Regions from separate parts of the Homo sapiens genome. Here region 1 is linked to region 2. The links come from fine-mapping of genetic effects on plasma protein levels. Region 2 holds a variant in brackets. A gene starts in the other region. All regions are shown on their forward strands. Region 1 holds the start of SIGLEC6 (sialic acid binding Ig like lectin 6). Region 2 overlaps LINC00299 (long intergenic non-protein coding RNA 299).

Evidence for each region. PIP is the posterior inclusion probability: the model's chance that the variant is causal. The UK Biobank Pharma Proteomics Project read protein levels with antibody pairs (Olink). The fine-mapping took linkage between variants from a reference panel, not from the people measured, so its PIPs are less certain.
Region 1: it holds the start of SIGLEC6, and the variant in region 2 is fine-mapped to the plasma level of the SIGLEC6 protein (UK Biobank, PIP above 0.99).

Annotation. Positions count from the first base shown.
Region 1 is chr19:51,530,691-51,533,596 of GRCh38, forward strand. SIGLEC6 (sialic acid binding Ig like lectin 6) reads right to left here and starts at 980. Exons shown (of 8, transcript NM_001245.7): 1 at 892-980; 2 at 470-829; 3 at 1-269. The coding sequence starts at 958.
Region 2 is chr2:8,302,075-8,304,985 of GRCh38, forward strand. The region is part of intron 2 of LINC00299 (long intergenic non-protein coding RNA 299); the gene reads right to left. Among named protein-coding and RNA genes, the nearest start is that of LINC00299, 25 kb to the right of the region's middle. RefSeq lists enhancers at 258-317, 1,804-2,023. The variant C/G (reference allele first, on the strand shown) is at 1,655.

The DNA of each region.
Region 1 (2,906 bases), not on the chromosome of region 2:
GAGCTGGATGGTTCTCTCCATGGTCACACCGGCTCCAGGGAACGTCACCTGACAGGTGAGGTTGGTGCTGTGGTCCTGGGGCCGTGGGGTGATTGTGAGCACCGAGGACTGGGTGGTCCTGGGGCCCAGGGAGGTGGGGGCAGCTGACATCCAGGAGAAGATGGGGGGCGTCCCCTGCTCACAGACCCAGGGCACAGAGCAGGTCAGATTGCTGGGATGGCCAGACTCCAGGGTCCCTGGGATGGAGATGTTGGGCCTGTGGGTCAGGGCTGGTGAGGAGATGGGGACGCAGGATCAGGATGGAGGTCTGAGGTTTCACCCAGGGGGAAGCCCAGTCTCTGGTCCAGCTCCTTCTCTGAGCCCAACATGCTTAATTGTACCCGCCTCCCAAGACGGGGCTCCCGTCCCAGCCCTGCCCTACGGCCCCCATGACCTTCCCCTGTGGCTAGTCCTGGAGCTGGTTCCTTACCCATCACACGCACAGAGAGCTTGGAAGATGTATAACCGTATTTCATCCATTTGGACTTCAACCGAAAGAAGTATGCAGCATTGTCCCTCCTCCGGGCATCTCTGATGCTCAGGGAGCAGTTCTTCCTTCTGGGATCCCAGAGGAGGTGGAATCGGCCCCGGGTCTCCTCCTGCACTTCTTCGTCTGGGTCGTTTGTGGCCACTGGAACATCAGCCCCTTCCAGGAACCAGTAGCCATAACCATAGTACGAGGCTGGAAGGGTAGTGGGCAATCTGCAGGGTACGAGGACGCACAGACCCTCCTGCACCGTCAGTGACTCTGGCCCCTCCAGCTGGAATCTCCGCTCCTGAGCCAGGGCCCCTATGGAGACATGAGGGTCAGCTCGGCCCAGCCCCACGGCACCTCTCCCCTGGCCCACTCACCTGCCCACAGCAGGGGCAGCAGCAGCGGTAGCATCTCTGAGGCGGAGGCTTCCTGGGCTCCCTGCATGAGCAGAGAAGGGGAAGGGAGTGGAGGGGAAGGACTGCGGGGAGGAACGGGTGGCTGGGGAGGAGCGCGTGATCTCGGCTGTTCACAGAAGAGGAACTGCGAAGCCACAAGCCCTCGGAGCTCCACTCCCTCTGCACAGAGCAGACGGAAACTTTGAGACCCAGAGACCTGCCCAAAGAAGAGCAGAGGAGAAGAGACTGTGTCCCGCCTCCCACCTCGGGGCTTCCTGTGAGCAACAGAGCCCGGACCAGGGCCTCCCGGGGCATCTGAGGAATGCGAAACCTGTGTCCAAGGCCCTGCCCACCTGAGGTGCTTTTCTGTGCACCACTGTTTACACCTGGGAGCTGGTCACTCCTGGCCCCAGAGAGTCACAGCCTCATCCCACGCCATGAGAAAGTCAGTCCTGCAGGATATAGGATTCTGTAGGGTCTGTGGGAGTGTCTGGGACAGTGAAAGGAAGAAGGGTCCCAGGTGCAGTGTGGGTGATAGCCACTCATTCATTCACTCATTCATTCATTCATTCATTCATTCACCAAAGACATAGTGAGCATCTGTATGTAGGTCGGGCTGGAGAAGAGATGCCAGGGACCTGGTCCCTACCCTTGAGATGATCCCCATCCATAGCTTCCCATCCTCAGCACACACCCTCACTATCTAGCTTTAGAGCTGTGGACACTGGTGAGTTTGCCAAGTGACACAGTAGAATGCCAGATATTTTTTAAAACATGAGTATGGAGGTTTTTCCTTGACAGCTAGTACGCTGATTTACAAAATTTCAATGACATCTCCAAAATAAGAACCATGCAACATCTTCATGTAAATCAAAAAGGACACATATTTTATGAACTGCAGTGCAGAAGAAACTTCTTTTGAATTAATGTTGCCACTCAGTGCAGTGTGGACTGGAGAGATTTTTTTTTAGGTCCTCATCATAGAGATTAGCAATTTCTTTCCTGTGAAAAATCTGCTTCTCACAGTTAAATGTGGCACAAAAGACATATTTCTGGACAACGTGAGCAGAATATCCTGACAAAATTAAAATTTTTAGGTCTAGCTCACATGGTTTTCTATTTTCCTCTGTGCAGTATGCATCTGGCAAATCTCTAATACCTATGAGGTATTAGAATTTGCCACCATATATTTGTAAATTTTTTTATTTCTACAAACTTAAGGAGTAGATGTAAAATTTTTTTGCATGTATATAATGCGTAATGATTATGTCAGGATATTTAGAGTGTCCGTCACGTGAGTGCAATACATTCTTGTTAACTAAAATCACACTATTCTGCTCTCTAACGCTGAATTTATTCCTTTTAACTGTATGTTTGTAGCACTTCACTCACTTCTCTTCATCTTCTGTCCTCCCCCATCTGACCCTTTCCAGTCTCTGTTGTCTATCTTTCTACTGTCCACCTCCATGTGATAATATTTTTTTAGCTCCCACATGTAAGTGAGAACATGCAACATTTGTCTTTTTGTGTCTGACTTATTTCAATTTAGATAATGAATTCTAGTCCCATCCATGTTGCTGCAAATGACACGATTTCATTCTTTTTTATGGCCAAATAGCATGTATACTATATTTTCTTTATCCATTCATCTGTTAATTGACACTTAGGTTGGTTCCATATCTCTGATATTGTGAATAGTGCAGCAAAAATCATGTGAATGCAGGTATCTCTTTGATGTATTTCTTTCTTTCCCTTCGGGTAGATACCCAGTAGTGGGATTGCTTGAGTGATCGAATAGTAATTCTATTTTTAGTTCCTGAGAAATGTCCATAGTGTTTTCAAAAGTGGCTGTACTAGTTTAAATTCCCACCAACAGTACAGAAGAGTTATCTTTCTCCTCATCCTTGCCAAAATCTGTTATTTTTTGTTTTTTTAGTAATAGTCATTCTGACTGGGTAAGACGGTATCTCATTTTGGTTTAGATGTGCACTTCTCTG
Region 2 (2,911 bases):
CTGGTCCTCCAGCCAACCTGCCTTCCAGCTGCAGATCATCGGGGTTTTCTTAAATGCTGCCAAGGAAGTGCTCTGGCTTTCACAGTTTGCCTGAAACCAGTGATGAGTCATCCTGCGCCTCTGCCTCTCTCTCTTCAACACTCAGTAGCCTCAGCCTCAGCCACCCAAGCCCACAGGCCTTCTGGTTATCATTTCATCAGCCGGCCACCTGCTTCCTCTCCAATTTTTCATTAGGGCCTGCAACTCACAACCACGTCCAGTGTCAGCTGCCTGAAAGTCTTCCTAGAAACAGAGTCTGAGATGGAAATTGCATGCAGAGTGCTGATCAGAGGGTGTTCTCGGGAGATTCTCCTGTAAAGAAGTGAGAAAGGCAGGATGCTGCAGAAGCTGAAGCTGGCTGCAACGAGGCTACACTTGGAGCCACCCCCAGCCAATCCTAAGTGGCGCTCTCGAGCTGGGACGGCCCATCAGAGTTGTCCCAAGTTGAGGCAAGAGGGCCGAGCCTTTGCGTTCCTTCCTCGGTCAGTTTCAGAACCTGGGGGATATGACCTGAAAAGAGGCCATTCCCTGCAGCAGGAGGGGGCATCCAGTGCGGGCTCTGCCATGGCCATCATCAACTGTCACTGCAGCTAGCGGGGAGACCTGGGCAGAGCACCCCAATGGTCACTGCAGCCGAAAGAGGACTGCTTGTCTTTCTGCTCTCACACCCCTTACCTAGGGAAGAGCAGAGAAAGGGTTGCTTGAATGGGAGGAATAGCAAAGAGAACAAAGAAATCCCAATGAGGGGAAACCTCTCAGCGCACCAGCCTCACTGTGTGCTGAGAGGCACCCACTGCCTTCCCTGCACTCCTTAGATCTTGTTCATGGGTGGTTGTTTGTTGTTGTTGTTGTTGTTGTTGTTGTTGCTGTTTTTAATGTAAGAAACAGAATCTTGCTGTGTTGACCAGGCTGGTCTCAAACTCCTGGCCTCAAGCGATCCTCCCCCCTCAGCCTCCCAAAGCACTGTGATTACAGGCGTGAGCCACTGCATCCAGTCTCATTCATCTTTTTGTACCATATTCTCTGTCCCACCACTCAGAAATATCTCAGGTGCTGTACTAGTGCCTTACACATCCTGGACCCTCAGTGCTGTCTCAAACTCCTGGCCTCAAGCAATACTCCCCACTCAGCCTCCCAAAGCACTGTGATTACAGGCGTGAGCCACTGCATCCAGCCTCATTCATCTTTTTGTACCACATTCTCTGCCCCACCACTCAAAAATATCTCAGGTGCTGTGCTAGTGCCTTACACATCCTGGACCCTCAATGCATAGCATGGTAGCACCAAAAGGTGTGAAATACAGAAATGAAATCATTAAGTGAGTCATTCATACCCATCATGGTTATTTATACGGTAATTTATATGGTCAAGCTTGACCGTCTTGGAGGGCTGCTGTCATCACAAAGCAGAACAAGGCCCACCAGGACACCCTGACCTCGTGCAGTGAGCCGGCCCTCAGGCTTGCACAACAACAACCCCCAAACACTGGCATGTTCCCAGCTGAGCCAACATGCACCAGACCCACCCAAACGTGGCCACATCGGAGCCATCTAGAAACCGATTTGAACACTGCTTCTTGTGGTGAGGGACAGGAAACCAAGAGGACACAGGGGGC[C/G]GTGTCGAGGTTAACAGGGAGGGCTGCAAGCCCAGATCTCTGGTTTCTGTTCCTCTCCAGCGTTCATCCTCTCCTACTGTTGTTAAAAATCAAATGTAAGATGCAGAGAGCCAGTCCAGGCTGTCCAGAGGACAGGGCTGAGCCTCGCTCCCCACTCCATTCCCAGGGCCTAGCACAGGGCCTGGCACAGAGGCCATATCACAAGTCAAGAAGGAAATCTTTCCTTTCTGCCAACCCTGGATCTTCCCAGAGAGGAGCCCTGTGTCCTCTTGAGGGCAGGATGGGTGGTCAAGGCAGGGACGCGGTAAAAACTAAGGTCGTACACCAGCAAGCTATCGACAAGCATTTAGAAAGCTGTGTCTCAACCAAGATAGTTATTGCAGCTTTATTTGTGTTATCAATAGTCAAAAAAAGGGGGGGGGGAAGACAACTTACTCTGAGCCCTAGGGTGCCTTGTCATAGGAGGTTCTGGGGGTAGGTACACAGTTACTATTTATCCCATGAATAAAAGGGTGGATGGAAATAGGCCAGGAGTTGGGGAACTTCACACAACAAAATCCAAACTGAATGATGGTGAGCCAAAACACAAAAATAACACAAAAGACCCCAAATTGTTACTGTATTTAGAAATAAGACCCAAATTATTATAAAAAATTGTCAGATTGCTACAAGGCAATTTTTTGGGTGCTATAAAAGGCCTCTGGCCCAGGGGCCTAACAGCCTCCTAAAAGAGGATATCAGGAAAAGCAAGTCGCTAAATAGAAGAAAATAAAAGAAAAGGAACTCGTCAGTCAAACTGCATCCTGCCTAGCAGGGAATCCACACACTCAGGGAATCTCAGATCCCAGGACTTCAGACTGAGATGGACTCGGTGTCTCTGGCCAATGAGAACCAAAGTCCTTCACACATCATGCTCCCTGAGACAAGAAAACGTAGGTATGCTTTAGGGGAAGAACAAAAACAGACAAGGGCAGTGGGAGTTTTGATTAGCATAATCTTTACAAATCCTTGCTTTGGAATTCCAGCTTGGCCACCTACTACATCATTTGGGCAAGTTTCTTAACCTCCCAGAACCTCAGTGTCCTCATCTGTAAAATGGCAATTATGAGAACGCTACCTACTTCATCACAGTGGCGTAAAGACTTACTAAGATAATTCCCGTTAAGTGCTTAGCACGTCGCCCTCCAAGCAGTCTGTTATTTTTCTGATGTGTCAATGTCACCATTCACCTGCTGTGCAGTTTTGAGCAGATGATGA